Linked DNA regions of Homo sapiens. The protein of the gene in region 3 interacts with the protein of the main gene of each other region in a pairwise test. Each region holds a gene or a part of one and is shown on either strand. Other genes may lie near its edges.

What was found. The genes of interacting proteins can lie anywhere in the genome.
Region 1: the proteins of MEIS3 (region 3) and PIP4K2A interact in binary tests that used the Homo sapiens proteins (3 or more experiments, as listed by UniProt).
Region 2: the proteins of MEIS3 (region 3) and ATXN1L interact in binary tests that used the Homo sapiens proteins (3 or more experiments, as listed by UniProt).

Annotation. Positions count from the first base shown.
Region 1 is NC_000010.11:22,536,570-22,543,590, forward strand, and holds part of PIP4K2A (phosphatidylinositol 5-phosphate 4-kinase type-2 alpha), read right to left. Parts: intron 5,479-7,021; coding exon 5,235-5,478; intron 3,506-5,234; coding exon 3,402-3,505; intron 713-3,401; coding exon 632-712; 3' UTR 1-631. UniProt on the Homo sapiens protein: Catalyzes the phosphorylation of phosphatidylinositol 5-phosphate (PtdIns5P) on the fourth hydroxyl of the myo-inositol ring, to form phosphatidylinositol 4,5-bisphosphate (PtdIns(4,5)P2). Has both ATP- and GTP-dependent kinase activities.
Region 2 is NC_000016.10:71,848,964-71,855,984, reverse strand, and holds part of ATXN1L (ataxin-1-like), read right to left. Parts: intron 6,362-7,021; 5' UTR 6,245-6,361; coding exon 4,175-6,244; 3' UTR 1-4,174. UniProt on the Homo sapiens protein: Chromatin-binding factor that repress Notch signaling in the absence of Notch intracellular domain by acting as a CBF1 corepressor. Binds to the HEY promoter and might assist, along with NCOR2, RBPJ-mediated repression.
Region 3 is NC_000019.10:47,416,512-47,424,500, forward strand, and holds the start of MEIS3 (homeobox protein Meis3), read right to left. Parts: upstream 3,017-7,989; 5' UTR 2,571-3,016; coding exon 2,559-2,570; exon of another isoform or gene 1,237-2,558; coding exon of another isoform or gene 961-1,236; intron 840-960; coding exon 667-839; intron 453-666; coding exon 293-452; intron 192-292; coding exon 141-191; intron 1-140. UniProt on the Homo sapiens protein: Transcriptional regulator which directly modulates PDPK1 expression, thus promoting survival of pancreatic beta-cells. Also regulates expression of NDFIP1, BNIP3, and CCNG1.

The DNA.
Region 1 (7,021 bases), on a different chromosome or scaffold from region 3:
TTATCAGTGTTAGGGAGAGTGTCTGCGTGCGGGGTAGAAATGGAACATTCGCTGTAGGTTTTTTCCTTGGAATCATCATCATTATTATAATAATCATCATTATTATCTTCATTATTCTGAATACTGTCTCACATCTTTCAACTCCAAAAAAAAAAAAAAAAAAAAAAAACTGATCCACAGTTTGTTGTGTGATGCCAACACGGTGCCTGACATCATGCACTTCCTTCTCCCCTCCCCCACACGTGTGTTCATTCACTCACTCACTCACTCACTCATTCATTCGGCCATAGCTGGAATCAAAGGGTCTTTGTTGGGACACATACTGACCGAAGTGGATCTGTTTTAATTAATTTATGACTTTTAAAATGCACACGCGCGCACACACTCACCCCCCCCCAACACACACACACACACATATACACAAAGTCAGAAATAGCTAGAACGATGCTGGGAAAATCAGGTAGCTGTAAAGCGAGTAGCCCCCAAATCAGTCATCTTGGCCTGAAGATGTAAACAAGGAGGTTTGCTTCCTGCAAGATGAGTACTTCACTGAGTTTGGTTTTCATTTTTCCTACACCGAAGCCACCTCTGTCCATCCAATGTTCATGTCTGTCCGAGGCTGCGCAGGAGGTTACGTCAAGATGTGGCCAATAAAGTCCAAAAAGCGCTTTGAATACTGTTCTGGGTTCACGGTGGAGATCTCCGCGCCAGCCTGGGCAGTTTTTAAAAAAGGAAATATTGACATAGTGTTTATGATTTCCCCAAATTATTACTCAATATCTACAGCTATTTCCAATGGCAACTGAATATACAGCAAGCAATTTTCAAATCCATGCAGTCTCTGCTCTGAAAAACATCACTCAAAATATCTTGGCGCTCATGGTTGAATAAGCAAGGTTCTTACAAATCTGTGTCTGCAAATGAGACAAAGGGCGACAGGAGCACCAGATGCTACCACACACACCGGGGCTGTTGCAACTCACAAAAAAATCAAACAGGCCACGTTTGGGATGTTACTATCAAAGAGTGGAATTGTTCAGAAGTCACGGAAACAATACTTATGTTATACTTTTCAAGAAGGCAGACTGGAGCCACCTTGAGAATGACATCAACATTTGGCGAAAGGGAAACCTTAATGACGATGACTTAAAACCGCATGATTTCTTCAGGACCCCTTCGTTTCTGGACAGAGGCCCCCAGCTCAGTGCTCAAACATGAGGGGCAACAGCAGCAGCCACAGGTTCTGGGACAGCTGCCCCCAGCCCATTCCCTGCACCGTAACCAGGTGAGGCACAACACTGCTGGCTCCATCTTGCCCACGGGGGAAGGAGCTGACTTCCCTCTGCAGCAGCACACAGGGGTGCCACTGTTCCCCTTTCTGAGCCCTGCAGAGAGCAAGCAAGCCTGGCCCCCTGCAGAAGCACGGTGAGGGATTTTTCCATGATGAGATGCAGGGTGCAGGCCAGCACACTCAAGGGAGTCACTCACTGGCCAGTTTCCTGAGCTGCAAAGGGCAAGCACGGAGTTTTGCTAAGTGAGCATGTGCTGTTTTTAGACACCCATGTTCACCGGGGAACTTGTAATATTTCCAGGCCTCGGCTGCATGGAGGAGCCCAGGCTTGAATGCAGAGAGAATGGTCCCCCACAGCAGCTTAACACAGCGTTCCTTTGCTGACAGTAATGTTTTCTTCTTGCAAACTACCTGTGATTTTATGCCGTGTGGCACACTATGGAGGCGAACTTGTGGCTTATGGGGAGATGAACATGGAGCCATATTGGCTAGGATAGGAGAGATGAACATGGAGCCATATTGGCTAGGATACACTCCAATTTCACAGGATGTATAATATGGGAACAGACATTTACAAAGCATTTGTCCAGACAACTCTTGTATCTCTGGCAAAACCCCATCAGCAAGGCAGTAGGATTTCTGTATGAGGTGAAAAAACAGGAGCTCCAAAAGTGTCCCCTTGAGGTCATACAAGTGGGAAGGGTCAAACGAGGATTCCTCGCCAGTTCTCTCTTTGCCACACTCCATGGTTTTCAACCAGAGGTGAGCATCAGAATGACCATGGAGTCTTCTGAAGACCCCTCCCTCACCCTCCTGAACTGGCCTCAGAAATGACGGAATGGGGGTGGTGCACCTGGTGCGGATGTTTGTTTAAAAAGAGTACTCAAAAATTTCTGTTGGGGGGAAGCCACCAGGCACACTTGCTTACTGACGTGCTCGGGGGCGGTGAGGTCCCAGTCTGTGCTCTGCACACAGCAGGAATACCATAGCTATCGACAATGTGACTGAAATATTTCTTTGGCAAATAGAATACTGTGTTTGTTAGGCTGATTTCTATTTTAAAATAGAAAAGAAGAGGTTTCAAGTGAGTTTTTGGTTCTGGTGAATCTTCATTAGTTCTACACAGTCTGTGGGAAGCACCTCTTCTTCCAGGGCCAACAAACCAGGGAATACATTCATCTGTGTGGGGTGGGCTCTATGGCTTTCAGGACCTCTGCAAAACAAAGATGGCACCCTGCAATACAAGCCTGAAACTTGGCGAGCTGTAAAGTTCAGCCAGGCAGGAGGTGTTTGCAGGCAGGGCAAGGGGATGAGCATGAACACAGAGCCAGGAGGGGGCTGGGTCCGGGGGAGGAATCTCATCTCTGCCACTTGCTACTATGAGGCCCTGGCAAGTTACTCCTGAAGCTATTTTCCTCAGTTTCTCCAACTGACAAAAGCAGGTACACTACTATCTCTTTCATAGGCTTCTCATGGGGGATAAAATAGCTTAACATATGGCTAGAGCAGTGAAAACTCCCATCAAGCAACATTAACGGTGAGTAATATTATGCAACTTTGATTTTGCACTCAAGAGATTTCTGTAGTAGAAAAAATACAACTCACTGTGAGAAAAGAAATATTAATCCTGTATACTTGGGAAGTGTCTTAAGCAGACAATCATGCTTCAGTTTTGAATATTTCATATTAGAACACTTCATTATCTTCTTTTGCACTTTTATCTCTGGAACATTTTTCAAACAAAAAAGAATTTGTGTAACATCCTAGTGATGCGCATGCCTGTTAGTGTCCGCCATGTGTAAAAAGAAGAGATGTTCATGTTTAAGTGACTTCGCTGGAAGCCACAGGGAGCTGTGGTAAGAGCAGCAGTGAGCAGTAAGCGTTTGTGGGTTCTGTATCTTACGCTCAGAACATGACTTGCCCCCAGGGAACAAGCGTCACTAAAGGGCTTTGAATGGCTCAGTAGAAAGCAGCTCAGTGGCAGAAAGGAGTGATCCCTGAGTTACAGGTCACACAGAGGAGCCAGGAGAGAGAGAGAGAGAGAGAGAGAGGGAGAGAGAGAGAGAGAGAGGGAGAGAAAGAGAGAAGGAAACAAAATGGAGATACTCACGCCATGTTTAACAGTTTTTGCAGCATGGGCAGCTTTCTTTTTTGCATCATAATGAGTAAGGATGTCAATAATTGCCATGAAGTACACCTCCTTCCTAGGCGAGTCTGCAGAGACAGGAGAGCAATGACTGTGGGACATGTGACAACACCAGTGCCAGCATTGCTGCTGAGGGAGGGAGGGAGGGAGAAGTGAGCCTGGAGGGAGGGGATTCAATGGAACGCGGATGGAAGGAGTCCAGAGACAAACTCTACACCACCCCTGCGGATCCTGACTAAACACACAGCTTGCCTCTCTGACCCAGTCCCCCTGCAATTTAAAAAGAAACAACCCTAACAACTAAAAACATCATCACACCAGGGTATCAACAGTGGAGATCCAACGGTGGAACGGAGTCTTTTTTTTTTTTTAATTTGCATTTTCTTTAATAATTGTGTATTGCTTTGGTGTGAAGAAATATGCTATTTAAAAATACCCTATAAAACAGAACTAATTATGTACACTAATCCTTTACATCAAATGGTAGAACTGTTCATAATTCTCACTGGATACAGTATCAGAACTGGATAAAGGCATACATCCACTCCAATGTCTATTTTCTTTTTTTGAGACAGAGTTTTGTTCTTGTTGCCCAGGCTGGAGTGCAATGGTGCGATCTTGGCTCACAGCAACCTCCACCTCCCGAGTTCAAGTGACTCCTGCCTCAGCCTGCCGAGTAGCCGGGATTACAGGCATGCATCACTATGCCCAGCTAATTTCATATTTTTAGTAGAGATGGGGTTTCTCCATGTAGGTCAGGCTGGTCTCAAACTCATGACCTCAGGTGATCTGCCTGCCGCGGCCTCCCAAAGTGCTGGGATTACAGGCATGAACCACTGCGCCCGGCCCGTGTCTGTTTTCTATCCATTTCCAAAAATATGAACAGTAAGAAAAGTACATTTGACTATCTAATTTTCTGTGTTGAAGAAAACATTTTGGTGAGCAAAACAGAACAAAACAGAACTCAGATCCTCAGCTGATATGCCATTTGAGATTAAAAAACAACTGATGAGCCACAGTTTTTATTATTCAAAAACCAAGAAGCTGTTTTTATCCTATCACAAAAATATTTTGGTATTGTCACGGATAAGTTGCTAAGGTAGGATGTAATATTCAAATAACTGGTGCACCCAATCACCTGGATACGGTGGATTAAGATTTATCTGACTCTAGGGAAGAGGGCCATAGGCCCTTCCATGGGGGAGGACAGCAGAGCCAGACTCAGCAGCAAATCAGATTCCCACCCCACCCACAGGGCCCATCTTCACACACCCTTCACACCCCTGAGAGGGAGAGGGCTGTTGGTAATGACAAGAGGACAAGCTAAGGGTCACAGAGGATCACATGCATGTGCCTAGCTTAGACTCATGATGCTTTTGACTTAGATAAAAAAGATAACTAGGCAAAAACGTATTAATATTTTAAAGCATTTCTGATGTTATTTGTGAACATGTATGTGTGCATATGTACATGCATGTTGTGTTGTGTGTGCACGTACGTTGTATGCCAGTGTGTATGTGCATATGTACAGGTGTGTTGTACATGTATAGTATAGTTCGTGGTTTTGCTGTATTCCCTCAACATCACAGAATTCAAAGGTCCGATCGCCTTATGTTTCAGCACTGAGATCACGGTTAGCTTTAACATACTCTTGTCCCCAAATCCATTTCTTTGGAGTTTGGAGGATGAGTGCTGCCGGGCAGCACCCTCATAACTGGGGTAGTGCTTACTGGTAGATAACAAGGCCAAAGTCAAACCACTTCACATGCAAAAAGGGTCCACAGTAATCAAACTTACTTTCATGGCACTTAATTCCATAGACGTCGATGTTCGGATCGAACTCCCCGGGAGCCAGGGGTGGTGAGCTGTTCAGTGTATTCCCGGGGCTATCTGGGGGGGTTCCCACCGGGTGGGTGCCATCGCTCTCGCCCTCCTCCTCCCCATCGTTCTCCTCACACTCCACTTCCTCCTGTTCGGCTCTCTCCACATCATGAATTCCCACCAGCAGACTGTAGTCCATGAGCTTCAGCTGGGCCAGAAACTGGGGACAGAGGCAACAGGGTGAGTCAGCCACACCTTAAACATAAAAGCCAACATTTAAAGGAGACAAGCTCGGGTGACACCCAGAGGGAAGGCTGTGGGGTGGGGCAGCAGAGGCGCCGGGTGCCTCCTTCACGATGCTCTTACACTCCTGGGCTGTTTCTCTATCTAAAATGTAGCCTCACACTTCAGGCTGGCTCAGAGCTCAGGCTGTTTACCCTGGAATGCCACACTGGATGCGGAGAGGTGTGTATCTATCACAGGGTGGCTGGATTTCACCAGATAGCAAGGAGCATGACCAGTAAGAGATGCGGAGAGAGACTGGGAGAGAGAGCAAGTTCCTCCCAATGATTAAGACTGGCTAATGGGGAAACCCAGGCATCTCCCAAGTAGCTTCCAGCGGAGTCTCTGGTGGTAGTTCAGGAAAGCACCCTGGAATTCAGCATGCTCTGTGGAGGCGATTGTTACGCTGTTGTAAATAAGTAAAAGTAAAGGCACTGTGTCCACATCTGGTGAGTAATGCAGTCCTGTCCAGGTCAACAAGGTGCTTTCCACGTGTGCTTTCCACGAAGCACCACACATCCAGGATTCCTGTCCTCCCTCTCCTCCTCCAGCCGTGGCTAGAACATAATGTGGGGGCAAGACCCAGCTCTGTGTGTTTGGCTACTCCTGTCTGCCCAGTTCTTTGACTTTTCAGATCACGATTTCTCTTTGTTTCCCTTTTCTTATTTGAGACCTTCAGCACAACGTTCCAATGTTGCCATAAGATGTGGATGGTTGTGCTGAGTGCAAACAGTGGCAGCCCATCTGCGGGCTGGACCCAACTGGCTCCCTGACCCCGTGGCTGGCTGGCTCTGCACAGGATCCTGTTCCACTCCGACCTTGGGCTCAGGGTCCAGGAAGGTTCACGGTCCTGGCTCTGGAAGGACTCAGTGCCACCTCGCTGGGGAATGCAGAGTGGCTGAGCAGCCTCTGGGCTATGCTGATAGAATTTAGGAAGCAGATGTCCTCATGCAAAGGGCAAACAGATAAAATCACAGGTCTTGAAGTTCTGGCTAAAAATGAAATCAATTTGCTAAGCCCCGCAGAGTCATTTCTCCTCAGCCTGCTGGGAAGGAGTTCTGTCTCGAAACTGAATGAGAAGCCCCGATTCCTTACAGACGAGGAGAGGACCCCTGGGCACAGGGCTATCCCACTCTCCAGCTGGTTCCTGGTGCCTGCAATTCTCCATCAGCCAGCACCCCGCTCAGCCCAGCAAACTGGCCAGAGCTCCCACTTCGCTGCCTTCCCAACAGGAATCCCCCAGGGCCAGCTATATCTTCCCCAATTGTTTTGAGCTCAAAAAAGAGAAATCACACAAATCTTACACTCAAATATTTAAGCAAAGTGGGAGAAACCTGTTTGTTTAAAAATAGAGGCAAACCCCTCGTGGAAACAGCATGGGGCTCCTGCGTTCAGCTTTCTGGGTCCCAGAGAAGAGGGGAAGCCACTGCTCATCCCCCCTGGTCTTTCCCCAAACTCCCCCATTACAGTAAACATGAGAA
Region 2 (7,021 bases), on a different chromosome or scaffold from region 3:
CCAGATGCTTATTTTATTATTGCATAATGTGGGAGACCTTCCCTACCCCAGGAAAGCTGGAGAGTGAAGGCTTCCCAGCAAAGGGCAAACAGGTTCCTGATCGACATCCAACCTAATAAGGTTCAGCTCCTCAACTGTAGTGTACACTTTTGCCCATCTGGAAGGTACTATAGCTTCAGTGTGGTTTAGTAAACTTAGCCTAGGAGGCCAAGATGTCTCCCTAAAACTTAGTCTCTGTCCTATTTACTTTGTTTATAAGACTGTGACCTAACTTCCCATGGCCAATTCAATCGACTAGGTTATCTTTACTCCAATGGACCCAGGCCTTTTCCCAGTCAATCCATGTCCAACCCTTCATCTCCAGCGTGATCACTCAACTCTTCAACATGCCTGCTTGCTGCAGGTTTAAACCACACCACCATCCTGTGCTTCCCCCTAAATCGCCCATGATGCCCGCAGGTAAAAATAAAACTAAACCCCACTTGAGGTGCTATTTCAGCCAAACTTTAAACCCTCTCCGAACTCCAGAATCCACCTAACTGGAGCTGGACGAACTTCACTGGGATGCTGGCATGGGCCCTAATGTGGTTCCCTTCATTTAGTTTTTAAAACAGGATACAAGATACCACAAAGGAAAGAAGTTAATACAACAGAAGACACCACTAGTAGAAACCTGCTTGTTTCTCCCTCAAGATAGTCAGACATTTGGAGCCAGAGGGCTCCCAACAGCACTGAAGCCTTATCCCTTTGGATTTACCAGCCCACCAGCAGCATTTCATACCATCCCTATCGAACATGACTTCGCTATAAAATAACATGGCCTAACACAGGTAAGAATGAACCGGACGCCTACACTTAATCTACATGGCCAAAGACATGGAAGGATAGGGAGCTGTAGAGGACAGCAGGCAGGACAGTGAGCGGACAGCAGCAGTGGCAAAGCAGCGCAGGGCAAAGCCCTTGGTGTTATGACCAACTGGGACCAAGAATATAGAAGGACCAGCCCAGATTGGCTGGGGGCCCTCCCTCAGGTACAAGTACTCAGCTCTGAACTCCCAGAGCCCCTTCCCCCCATGCCACCTCTTCCTCATGTATACTAATCTTGATAGGAATGATTCAAGACTTGGCTTATTATCCATCCATGACTGGGTTCCCCTATTCCCAAATTGGTATACACATTTTTATACAGCGCCAGACAGTCAGCAGTCCTCCTTTCTATTCCTAAGAGCTGGAAATGTCCTACTGCTGACAAGGGACAGGCTCTGGCCCTTGTCAACTGCTCATTCTTAAAAAGTTGGCAACTTCCCACTAAAATACTCGCTAAAAACTGCTCTCATGTCTCCTGCAAACTCAGGAAATTCCTATAAGGAAGAATGGACACACCACAGGTTAGTCATATTTTTCATGCCTGGAGGAAAAGACTAAACTAGAGGTTAAAGGCAAGGGGGAGGCCACAGCTCTGACCGAGATTTAGAGCACAGAGATTCTTTTCCTGGGGACCATATTTTATGACAGATACCTTTGCAGCTCAGCAAAATCAAGTATTAATATGTTATATATGCATGGAACGATATTGTGGTATTACAGGAACTGCTGGTATTGCTTCACCAGCAAGAGACAGCAACAGAAAGGTCAGGGCCCAACTTGCCAGGGTCCTCAAGAATTTCTCTTTCCAGAATTCAGTGGAAGTTACCAGGTTGGAAAGTCACAAGTAGCCCAAGTGGAAGGTGATTTGATCTAAACTAATTGGTCTGTATCTGGTTAGACATAGGTTTGCCCCATAAGGAGAAAGCTCAGCTTGTGTCCTTGCAGACACTGCTTGAGCATCTACTGTGTACATGTCACTAAATTCAGTTGATGAGCCTTCCTATGAGGAAGGACGCTTGTGAGAAACCCATGCAAACAATGAACTCTAGGAATGAGTTGCTCATGAAACAGCCAGAGATGAGGCCTTCTCCCAAGGCCTTCTCATTTGAGGGGATTCCTCAAGACTCAACCCCACAGGCCCCCACTGTAGGAAACAAGCCAGAGAAAGCAGCATTCAGAGAATGGGGGACAGAGAAGGGGAAAGATATGATCCCAAATGCAGTACAAAGTTGGCGTCTGGTTCTGACACAAACCAGATACTGAAGCACTCACGGTCAGGTCAGCAACCTCCTTTGATGGACCCCCAAAAGCTGACTGACCAGGCAAACTGCTTTCAAGGAATGAAAGAGTGGAGGGTAGGGCTTGTAGCAAACAAGCCAGTTTCAGTCACTCTGTTCCCCCAGGAGAACAACCTTTAGCACCTGAACACTAAGAATGACTCCATTCTCAGAACTTCCCCTCCCCCCAGGAGGTAGGTAAGATTATTTATCCCCATTTGGCAGGTGGGGAGGAAGTGAAAGAGCCAGAGGTCACGAGACTTGCCGAAAGTCCTTGACAGAGCAGAGATCAGACCTCAGAGGTTTGGACTCCTGATGCCAGGCCAGGTCTCGGCCAATCCAAGTATACCTTATAAAGGACATGCCAGGATCATAGCCTGGGAGAAGTCTAACCAGAGAGCTGCGTGGACAATACCCTGAGTTGCCTTCAAGAGTCTAAAGACCCCCAAAAAACAAACAAAAAAACTTACCCACCTGAAAGCTAGTGGGGGAGCCTAATTCCCAATACCCAGTGGAACCCCACGGTCTGAGCTGATGCTAAAAGTTGTGAAGAAAATGTGGGATTAAGACATTGGTGGGGGGTAGGGGGGGTGCCAATGCAACCAAGATTGAAAATACTTTTTGCAGAGGAATATACCAACACAAAATGACATCTATTCAGGTACTGAAATGTTATCAAGACTATCCTAGAATCTTAGAGCTGGTGGTGGGAGGGGATGGCTTGGAGGCACCAGAATGCTGGGAGAAGCAGTGGAATAAGACAGGAGGGGCATATGGGACATGTGAAAATGCCATGATGGGCACTGCCCAGCCACGCATTCGCCCTGGCCCAGGGCATAGTTCCCTTCTTGTTTCTTCACCAAGCTGTTTGGCAGTGGAAGTGGAGGGGACATGATTTTGAGATTTTAAAAATAGAGATTATAGCTGAAGGGGAAACCAGAGAGACCCCCTACCCACCAAAAACTAGAGGTCTTGGTCAGAGTGGACAAAACCAACTTTGCAGACAAGGAAAGGCAGTGCAGCTACAAATGAGGCCCAGGTCACGACACCATGCAGCGGTCAGCGCAGCAGGAGGGTGGGGGTGGCGCAGGCACTTGGGCACAACACAGACAAAGGTGGGGGGTCAGTGCCTGGGAAAAAGGGTCTACTAGTTCTAAAGTCACCATTACCAGCAAGATTCTGTGAGATTTCAAAGTGGGTCTGGCATGCTGAGATGGAGGAGCTTTGTTAGGTGAGCTACCTTTCCAGAGGGCCTGCCTAGAACCCAGTCAGCCTGGCTATCAAGTCTTTCTCCCAAAGTCCCCTGACTGAGTCCCTGGCAAGGTAGTACTTCACTCTGAACCCTGAAGGGGCTCTCCCTCCGGGCCCCCGTGCTGCTAGAAGCCTTGTAGGCAGAATGGTGAGGAGAGATGGGGAAGGGCTATGAAGCAGAGGATCAAGCAGAGTCCTGCAGATGAGAGTGCTCCTCCCCCACACACCCAGCCATAGACATCTGGAACAAAATCACCCTTTAAAGTGCGCATCTCTCACAAGAAGGGTTCTGGGTGGGAACCCTCTTATTTCCAACCTTGGGGCCTCCTGCCCTTCTACCACAAAAAAGAAAAAAAACTTCTGACAGTTTAACTGCTACTATAAGCTGTGGATCATCATTTTTGGCTCTTTCTTTACTCCCTCCCTCTGCCATCTGCTCCCAAAGCCTGGACTTTCTCTTGCAGGAGCTAGGGATGGGGAGGAAAGAACAGGGAGGCCCTGATTTTGGAATGTTTCTTCTCCTGTGTGCACCCCCTTCCTTCCTTGCCCCAGGCCTGCTGCTCCCCATCACAACACCCTCTGGGGTTGTCCTGAAAGGATGCCATGGGGTAATGAACAACAGATCCTGCCTTGGGAGGCTGACTTCATGCCTCCCCTTTCCCCCAAATCTCACTGCCAAGAAAGCCATTCCCTGCTCGGCGTGTGCAAATCCTCTGCCTGCTCACGGCGGCGAGGCGAGGCTCTGGGGTAAAGCCCCAGTCCTGGTCTGGGGAAGAGGTTCATTTTCCCGCATTGGAACGCCCTTCAATGGACAGCTTTACCTCCTGTGGAATGAAAGAGGGACGGAGCAGCGCAGCCCGTGCCTCCTCCCCTTGCATGCTGTATCTTTGGAAGCTCGGGGCTGGCCAGCAGGCCTGAGCACCGGACTCAGGCTGGGAAGGCTCTACCACACGGGAGCCCTCTCCTGCCGGCTGGCTCTTCCCCTCACTGTCACATAGCTCTCTGGATCCCAAGACCGTCCTCTCAGGCCTTTCTCGGGGGGGACCCAGCTGGCTTGGGGGAGCACAGCTGGCCTGAGAAACTGAGTTACTGTTCAAGCTCTGTAAACTGATAGAGATGCAGACATCTCCCACCTGTAGCCGATGGCAGGGCAGAGAGAAGAGTTGTGTCGTCCGCCCAGGGCTGCAAGAGGACCAACCCTGGCCATATACAAAGAAGGGGTGCTCGGGGGGCACTTCGATGCTCACTTTGCTCTGCTGCTCACCAACCACAAAATGCAGCATGACAAATCCAGGCCATTGGCTCTCCTGAATGTCCACGACCGTGCTAGAGTCAATCTTCAGCCCCCCGCTCACTTCGGCACTGCGCACAAAATCCTGGGTCTGGAGGTCCTCCACCCGCTTCAGCTCTCCCGTAGCCAGCTGGATGATGGCGCCTTTCATGAAATGGGAAGGCAAGTGAGAGGAGGTAATGGGGGGCGGCGTTGGCTCCTTGTCTGGGAAGGTGGCTCTGGCCTGCACGTCCAGACTTGATGCTACCAGGATCTCCGAGCCCACAGGCAGCAGGCCTGAGTCAGTTCCAGTGGGCACCAGGTTGCCATTGGCTACAACCATTGCTTTGGGTAAAGGTCTATGTTTTACTGGTTCCTGATGGGACTGAGGGTAGAACCCACGGGCCTGACTTTTCTCTGCCAGCTCTGCAGGGTTCCTGGCTGACCCTCGCCCCTCACCCTGATGGTCGGGGGTATGATGGGATAGGTTGAGGGGGCTGGGTTCCTCCTTCCTCTGAGCTGCCACCACACGATAGTCCTGAGAAGCTAAAGCGCCAACCACCCGCTGGACCTCAAGGTCAGTGTCCGGGGTCCCCCGGTGTGCTGGTGCTGCTACCTCTACCCGTGGAGTCTGAGAACCTGAAAACAACTGTCCATCCACCACACATTCTACCACTGGCACCAGTCCCTGGCCTTCACCCTTGCTGTTGGGGGAGTCAAGGGCTTCACTTTCCCGTCTTACTAAATTTCGCTCTCGTGGTCTCTGTCCTCCATTTGCAGCAGCTGCTTCCAGAGCAGACTGGCTCTCCTGAGGGGTAAGAACTGGGCTGGCACCTGCTGGAGGGGTTTCATGCAAAGTATACCCAGCAGGTAGCCTGGACATCTGATAATAAATGGGCATCCGACCTGGAGCAAGGTCCAGCGGCTGAGTACTTGAATGATGTGGCAATTGCCCAGATGGGGAGGTGGCAGAGGGAGCTTTGTTAAATGAGTGGGCCGGGGAGGGAGCCTGTGGGGGAGGAGTGGCTCCTTCAGCCAGAAGTGAGGCATATGGCACAAAGTGTGGAAGGTGAGAGGTGGCAAGGTTGGCAGAAGGAGATAGGAGGGGACTCGGTAGGAAATTAGGTGGCACAGCATAGGGAAGGCTATAAGGAGACCCAATGAACTGCAGCGAGGTGGATGGGAGCTGAGCATAGTGGAGTGGAGGATAGTGGATGCCTGGATGTTGAATTAGTGAAGACGCTACATTAAACGTTGGGGGCAAGGGACTCATATTCACCACAGATGGGAGTCCAGTTGGTGAAAAGGTGGCAGGCGGCACAGCCACCTTATACAGCATGCCATACTGGTCCACTGTCAGACCGGTGATGGCCTCAGCTCCATCACCCCCCAGGCTGACTCTGGCTCCTGCCTGGCTCTGCCCAGCCACCACAACCCCTCGGGACCATTCAGAAGCATCACTGGAGGGTGTGTGGTTAGTGGAGCAGCTGGTAGTTCTCCCCATATCCTCGCTGGTCACGGGGAGGTCTCGTTTCTTTGGTGGAAGGCATTCCTGACTCCTTTCATGAACAGGTTTCATATTGCTTTGTGGTGTTCCTGGAGCCTGGAAGGAGTCGACTTGCTCCCTGGGGCATCAGAAGGGGCTTCTCTGTAGCTTCCCTGTACCCCTCTCTGCTTCTGGCTGGGGCGCCCACATCTATTAGGGAACAAATCAGAGGCAAAGAAAAGTAACCTAGGGATGAGCCAAGACAAAGGAAATAGAAAGAACTGTGCCATGGAGGAAGATGTAACAAAGGGGACTGTTAGAAAATAAGGAGGAAAGAGAAAGGGGCAGACAAGGAGGCTACCCCCAACTCATCCAGCCTGGGACATGAGAGAAACAGTCGGGGAAATCACAAGGCACAAAGAGCTACAGGGACACGCATTCACCAATGCACAAATAACCTGTGGGCTCCACAAGCCCAGGGAGACCAACAGCTTCACGGTTAGTCATGTGTCTCATAAGCACCTTGTCTCTTTTCTGCCTTCTTCCCAAAGGGGGCTTTGAACACATGGTCTTTCCTGCTGGCTCTTTTGCTTTTTTTTTTTTTTTTTTTTTTTTTTAAAACACATGGAGTTTTGCTCTTGTTGCCCTGGCCACAGTACATGGTGCAATCTCAGCTCACCGCAACCTCGCCTCCCGGGTTCAAGCAATTCTCCTGCCTCAGCCTCCCAAGCAGCTGGGACTACAGGCATGCACCACCACGCCTGGCTAACTTTGTATTTTTAGTAGAGATGGGGTTTCACCATGTTGGCCAGGCTAGTCTCGAACGCCTGCCCTTGGGTGATCCGCCCACCTCAGCCTCCCAAAGTGCTG
Region 3 (7,989 bases):
ACGTGGGCAACAATCATGACGGTTTGGGGACATGGACCAGGTGGCCTTCTCTCTGCACCCCCCCCACCAACCCCAGGGATGGGGCGTCAGGGAAGGAGACCCATTGGAGGAGGGGGTGTGGGGGAGGGCTCGGGTCTCACCAGATTGTCCAGTTCTGGGTTGGAGGAGAAGAGGGGCCTCTCAGAGCGAACCTGGGAGGGAAGAGAGAGGCCGGCAGGGGGATGTCCCGCCTTCCACCCACCCCTCCTCGCTGGCTCTCTGACTCGGTGTGTGGTGGGTGGGAGGTGCCCACCTGCTTGGCAAAGGCAGCGATGTCCTCGTTGAAGGAATCAGAGGAGCAGACGTCACCTCCAGGGGGTGTCCCCAGCCCAGCTCCGGCCCCGTCACGGGGAGAGCATGTAGCCAGTTCACATTTCTCAAAGACCAGGGCCAAGAGGGGGAAGAGCGGGTGTCTGGGGAGGCAGGAAAGGAGAGAGGTTGAGGGAGAGGCTGGGAGGTGGATGGAGGGGCTGCCAAGATGCAGAACAGCTGGGGAGGGGACAAGAGACCCAGAGAGGGAAGGAGACAGAGACTCGTACACAGAGAGAGACAGAAGCAGACCCAGGGAGCAAAGAAGCAGAAAGACAGAGAGAGAGAGACAGGAGCCTGAGACCCGGCCCCACTCACCCATAGATCTCATCCTTCTCCCTCTTCAGGCCGTCGCTGTCCAAGCCTGGGGGCAGGGGCTGGGGAGGCCGGTGCGGGCCATAGGGCCCTGGTACTGCGGGCACTGTCTCTGGGAAGCTAGCCAGGGCTGCGGGGCCATCCACGATGCCTGGGTAGTGCGGCAGCTCATCATACTGGGGGAAGGTGAGAAGAGAAGGGCGGAGCCCCAGGGAGGGGTCAGCACCCCGAGACTCGGCTGAGGAGCTTCTCTATCCTGGAACCCAGGAGATGCCCTTCTGTGTCCCAGAAACCTGCCTGTGGTCCCCAGGTGTCTGAGCCCCCAAGCTTGAAGCCCTCCAGGTCCCCTGGAGCTGCCTCGGTGGGGAGTGAGGACCCCGTCCAGGCAGAGATTCCTGACATGTGGGCAGGAGGACCCAGAGGGAGAGACGGCAGGGTCTGGCTGGGAGGGAAAAGAGATGGAGAAAGTGGCGTGAGAAGACAGTGACAGAGACAGAGAGAGAGACAGACAGAGAGGGAGATCCATGGACACCTCCTGTAGGAACCGCGCATTGTTGTACACAAAGTACACATACGAAGCCTCCCTGTCTTCTATTTCATTTCACAGTTGGCAGATAAGCGCATCAGAGTAAGTCTCAACAACATGTCACACTCCACTCGCCACGTGAATCTACCACACATGTAGACACAGCCATACACACCAACCCACGTGCACACTCATGTGTCAGTCACACCCAAATCCCCCCCCCCACACACACATGCACACACACATGCACACAGCCCAACACCAGGCACAAGAATGAATGCATGATTGAGACATTTGGCACATGGATGAATGAATGAATGAGGCATTTAGCACAGGGCCTGGCTCATGCTGTGAGCACTTGTTGCCGGAGAGGGTCACTCCGCACCACCATACAGACACGATTGCGCACCCAAGAGAAACACCATTATGGGGTAGGACGACCGCGTCCTGTCGTCACAGAACCATGCACCTGGGAAGCCAGGGGCACCTTCCTCTCATCAGGTCAAATCCCTTCCTCAGTGATGAAGACACGGAGGCTCAAAGAGGCAGCAGGACTCGCACGGGAAGAGGCTAGAACGTTCCTGCCTCGGACCCTCGCCTGGCTGGGCACCCTGGTTCTGTGTGTCCCACTCTTTCCCTCTCCCTCTTCTCCTAACTTCTCCTGTGCCCTGAAGTTGAATCCAACTGCTCCCCGCTGCTCAAGGCACTCTCACCAAAAGCGGTCCTCACAGCCTACCCGGAACCCCCAAAACGGGCGCGCGCCTCCTCCCCTGTCTTCTATCCCCGTTCCCATCCCCAGGGAGACAGGCTCCGTGGGGCCAGCAGCCTGGTGAGACCACCTCTCCCACCCCTGTCCCACTCCTAGCCCTGGAGAGGCAGGGGCGGCTTGGAACAAAAGTAGAGCGAAGGGAAGGACGGAGGAGAGCAGAAAAAAGGGGGGACGGTGAGGTGCGGGCGGCTGAGATGGAGGAGGAAGCCCAGGAACAGAGGAGAGAGACTGCGGGTGGGGGAGGGCAGAGAGAGGGGGATAGAGAGGCAGAAAGAGGGGGGAGACCAGGGACAGAGAGAGGGGGACAGAGAGGCAGAAAGGAGGAGGAGAGTGGGGCAGACAGAGGGGGACAGAGGGGCAGGGAGAAGGAGAAGCTAAACGATGGGGAGGAGGCGAGGCCGAGGGCCAGGAAGAGACACTTGGGGGCAGAGAGGGGGCACACAGGGACTGGGAGACCCAGGGGCGGAGGGAGGGGCAGAGAGAGAGCGAGGTGGTGTAGAGGACGGATGGGCTAATGGGGGCCAGCGCCGGAGAGTGGGGGATGCAGGGACAGGGGGTGCGGAAGCGGCCGGGACGCGGGGTCCCCGCCCCGAGACCTACCCTCCGGGCCATGGGCTGAGGCCGGCGGCAGCTCCTGGGTCCCTCCAGAGCCTGGCCGCGGGGGAGGGCGCAGCCCGGGGCCGCAGCCCCTGACGGCCCGCGGTGTTGACGCCAGGGGGTGGGCAGGAGGCCAGGCGCGCGCCCCCCCACCCCCGCCGCCGTCAGCGGCAGGCGCCGGGCCGGGTGGGGACTCCGCGCATGGACCCCGGCCCCCGCCCCCAGCGGGGGTCACGGCCAGGAGCGCATCGCCGCCGGGGCGGGGGCAGCAGGCGCAGGCGGGGCGCCCGAGGCCCCCTCCTCTGGGCCCCCCCCGTCCCTTCCCCGGCTCTGGAGGGAATCGAACCGTCCCGAGACGGACACACCGGGGACCGCAGGGGGCGGGGGGCGGCCCGGGGCGACGGAGGGTCCGGCGGCGGCTCAGGGGTGCTGGCAGCCGCGCTCCCCGTTCCCGGTCTCTCCCTTGTCTTGTGGAAATTAAACAGAACCACCAAGGAGCGGGATAGGGGATGAGCCAGAGTGAGCCTGCAGAGCTACAGCACGAGGGATTGGGGTTAGGGCAGCAGCAGCACTTCCGGTGGGAGTCGGGGAGGGGCAGGCTGTGGGGGGAGGAGAGGAAGAGACCGCGGCCCTGGTGCCCCCAGGCCCCTCCTCTCCTACCCAGGGCTGGGGTTCCTGCTCCGGGTTTCTCAGTCTCCCTCTTTCCCAGTCTCTCTCTCCTTGTCTCTCTCTGTCTCCGCTTCTCCCGTCCTTTCTCTCCTCTGGCTCTCTGTTCTCCGAGCCCCCTGGACACACCACGGACCCCCTCCCTGGCCATCTCCAGGGGTCACGTGGGAATCTGGAGTCTGGTCCCACCGTAGGCTCTCCCCTCTCTGAGGCTCGATTCCCCCTCTGCAGGATGGGCAGTGCGCTGGGGGCGGCGGGGGTGGGCTGTGGATAACGGAGAAACAGTTAAGCTAGAGGGTGCCAGGACTCAGGGTCTTGGCTGAGTCTGGGGGTCCCCATGCCGGCGGGCTCTGCCCCCGTGGCTGTCCTGCGGTGAGGCTGGCCGTTTAAGGCAGTCCGAGGGGAAGGGTCTGGAGGCCTTGCCTTTCCTCAAGGCCGGCGCACCCCAGATAGGGGTTTTGGAGCAGAAAATTAATTTAAATCACTTTTTAATTAAAGACACAAGGCCCTTTGGTCTGCTCCACCCCCACCTCACCCTCAGCCAAGACTTGGGGTGAGGGATGCAAGGGTTAGGAGTCTCTGGCTCTATTTGCTTTTTTGGGGGGTGGTGCATGCTAAGGTCCCCTTAGCCCAGGCTGATTCTGAAACCTAGAGGAGCAAGTGCGGCCTCATCTGACGGCCAGTGGTGGGGGGCGTGGACAGAGCAGGAAGGGAGGGAGGGGGCACCTGGGATGGGGATGGGGCCTAACTGGAGTGGGGAGGGAGGTAACTCCAGTGACGGTGTGATTCAGAGAGAGAGAGAGACAGAGACAGACGCGGGTGGGAGGAGAGAGAGAGAGAGGTGCAGACAGAGTGAGACAGACAGGAGGGGGAGGGAGTGGGGGACAGGAGCTCCAATAGAGACCCTGGAGTCGTCCCTGCCACCCCCAAAACAAGAGCAGGGGGCTTGGACTCTGAAGCATAAATCTTTCTAATTAAAGAAAGAGACGAGCTGTTGGGAAGGGAGAAATAAGTGTGTGGGAGAGAAATTGATTGGGGGAGGATGGAGGATGCCGGCGGGGGACGGAGGGAGCAGGGGGGAGGCTCCGGCTTTCTGAGGCTCTTCCTCCAGTCTTTCCCTCTGTCTGTCCATCCGTCTGTCTGTCCGTCTCTGTCTCTCGCTCTCTCTCTCTCTCTCTCACACACACACACACACACACACACACACACTCTCTCTCTCTCTCTCTCTCTCTCTCTCTCTCTTCCTGGCTGTCTCCCTTAAATAGTCCTGGGACCCTTCTGTTCCCAGGGGGAGGGAGCAGGTGGCGGCCAGGCCTGGTGCTGGAGCGGGGGTGCCTGTGTCACTGCGTCGCGGCTGCCTGTCGGCTCTTCGAGGGTGTGCTTGGGCCTCCCTGTGACAGTGTCTGGAAGCGTCTTCCCTGCCCGGCTGAGTGGCTCCCTGGGTGGCATCAGAGTGACCCCAGCTCCCAGTCTGCAGGGGTCTCCGCCCTCTAGCCCTGTCCTGCACCTGTTTTACAGACGGGAAGCGTGGAGCCCTCTATGAGTAGATCTGGGGGACCTCATGGGTCTCCCCAGCACGGGCTGGGCGATCTCTCAGCGGACTGGCCCTTCAGTGCCCCAACCTGAGCACCGACCACTGGGGCTATGCCCACCAGGCAGCCACGTCCCCCGGGGATCCGCAGTGGTCCCCAGGATCCCCTCTGAAAGCCTACAGGAGCAGACCGAATGAACGAGGATCCACCTTGGGTTCCTCCTGTCCTCTCTCTCGGGCCTGCTAGCCTCCTGCCTCGGTTTCCCCTCTTTATCAACCGCTCTGTGTCTGTCTCTCTCCTTCTGGGGGCCCAGGTTTGCTTCCTCCTCCTCATTCCAGGCTCTCTCTGAGAATCTGTGTCTCTGCTCAGGAGGGTGGGGGAAGAAGGGACCCTAAAAGACAGGCCGTCTCTGTCTCCATCTCCGCCTGGGCTATGTCTGTCTGTCTGTCACCTGGGCTGTGTCTGTCTGTCTGTCTCCTGGCTTTTTTTTTTTTTCTTGTATCTCTGTGTCTCTTTGTCTGGATGTCTTCTCTGCCTCATCTTTCTTATCTCTCTTTCTCTCCATCTTTCTCGGTCTCTCTCTCCAGGGGCCTCTGTCTCTTCTCCCTCCTTCCTCTCCCTCTCTCCGCCTCCCTGTCCCCCCCACCGTATCCTCCCTGGGCTTCTGTCTCCCTGGCTCTCTCCCCTCTCCTCCACCCGGGCCCTTCATAAATACATCGCCCCCTTCCCGTCCTCCCGCTGCCTGGCCCAGCTCCAGGAGAAGGAAACATTTATCTTGGTGGGGGCGCCCACCCCTGCGCCCGCCCCTCCGCCCGCTGGCCACGCCATCCATCACCCGAGCCCAGACTCCTGTGGCTCATTCGTCACCGGCCCTGACAAATGCCTGCCGCCCCCTTCCCCTCCCGCCCCACCAAGCAATCATACCATTAGCCACGGCTCAGCGGTGGCGGGAAGGACCCGGCCTGACCCGGGCGGGGGGCGGGGCACAGGCTGCGGCTCCCACCGAGACCCCTCTCTCCCTCTTTTCCTTCCCTTTCTATCTCTCCTCGCCCTCTCCGTCTTTTTTGTTGGAATCTGCTTTCCTCTGCCAGTTTCTCGCTGTGCCTCTGGGTCCTGTCTCCGGTCCGTCCTCCTCCTCATCCTCCTTTTCCTCACCCTCTCTCCTTCTCTCCTTCTGTCTCTGTCTCTCTCTTACTGAGTCTCTTTCCAGTTCTGACTCTGTCTCTGTGTCTCTCTATAACTGTATCTCTCTGTCTCTGCCCGTCTGTCTCTCCCTCTCTGTCTCTCATCTCTCTCTGTCTCTCCCTCTCTGCCTCTCCATCTCTCTCTCTGTCTCTCCACTCTGTCTCTCCCTCTGTCTCTCCCTCTCTGTGTCTCTTCATCTCTCTGTTGCTCCCTCTCTCTCTGTCTCTCCATCTCTGTCTCTCCCTCTCTCTCTGTCTCTCCATCTCTCTGTCTCTCCATCTCTCTCTGTCTCTCCATCTCTGTCTCTCTATCTCTCTCTGTCTCTCCTTCTCTCTCTGTCTCTTCATCTCTGTCTCTCCCTCTCTGTCTCTCCATTTCTTTCTCTGTCTCTCCATCTCTCTGTCTCTACCTCTCTCTCCATCTGTCTCTCCCTCTTGCTCTCTGTCTCTCCATTTCTCTCTGTGTCTCTCCTTCTCTGTCTCTTCATCTCTATCTCTCCCTCTCTGTCTCTCCATTTCTCTCTGTCTCTCTCTTTCTGTCTCTCCCTCTCTCTCCCTCTCTCTCTGTCTCTCCCTCTCTCTCCATCTCTCTCTGTCTCTCCCTCTTGGGGTCTGTCTCTCCATTTCTGTCTGTCTCACCATCTCTCTGTCTCTCCATTTCTCTCTGTCTCTGTCTCTCTCTGTCTCTCCATTTCTCTCTCTGTCCCTCCCTCTCTCTCTGTCTCTCCATCTCTCTCTGTCTCTCCATCTCTCTCTGTCTCTCCCTCTGTCTCTGTGTGTCTCTCTCCCTGTCTCTCCATGTCCCTCTGTCTGCCATGGGCTCTGTCGGCCCAGCCGTGCCTTTTAAATCTCTGGTCTCTGAGAGTACCCTCGGCGTTGGCCTCACTGGCTTTGTGTGCTGGGAATGGGGTGAGGGTCTTGCCCTGGCGCCCTGGGACGCCCGCCCCGCCCCGCTCCCCACCTCGCTCTCCTCCCTGGTGCTGTGTTCTGAGTCTCTGGGCTTCCTCCGTCTGCATCTTCTCTGCATCCTGTCTGTATCTCTGTCTCTGCTGCCTCTCCGGCCCCTGTGTTTTGTTCTTGGCTCTCTGCTCCCTCTCCAACTTCCCCTCCTCTTTTTGTGTCCCTTCTCCACCTCCTCCACCGTCTGTGTTCCCCCTCTACTGACCCCACCTACCCCTTTCAATCCACCACCCATGACATTCCCTTCCCCGCACTTCCCCAGGGAGAGAATTGCAGGGAGCAGGCAGGGAACGGGAGGCAAAGGTGGCGAGAAGGAGAGAGTGAGGAGGTACCTTGGGAGGCACTGAAGCCTGGAGCCTCATCCCTCTCTCCTTTGGCCATGTGTGCCTGGAAGTCCTCCCTAGTGTCTGATTTCAATCCTCAGGGGGACGGCAGAACGTGGAGGAGATGCCAGGTACCAACCCTTCCCGATTCCCTGGGAGAGGCCGAGGAGGGAGCTGGGGGCATCAGACCAGGAGAGAGGGCAACCTGGGCACAGTCAGTGCTGTGCTGGTGGCCACCCATTGCCTTACTGGAAGAGGGAGGTAGTGAGACCCCCGTTCTGGGAAGTAATCATAGCAGAGGCTGTCTCTGACCCACTCATACCACCTAGGACCCAACAGCATCTCTCACGCTGGCACCTGCGACCCTTCCCTGAATGCTTTCCAGACCAGGGTAGGAGGCGCTAGAAGTCAGCACCCCTAAAGAGGTCCTGGGCCACCATCAGACAGGAGTTAGTGGATACATAACCCAAAGTCTTCAGGTGGGGAACTCCAGAGTTCCCTGAGAGGTCCCCAGCAGGATGGAGACCTCATTGTCCACAGGGTGACCTGCTCATTCAACACTGCCTTTATTATTTATTTATTTATTTATTTGAGATGGAGTCTCGGTCTGTCACCCAGGCTGGAGTGCAGTGGTGTGATCTCGGCTCACTGCAGACTCTGCCTCCTGGGTTCAAGTGATCCTCCTGCCTCAGCCTCCCGAGTAGCTGGGATTATAGCCACCTGCCACCGTGCCCGGCTAATTTTTGTATTTTTAGTAGAGATGGGGTTT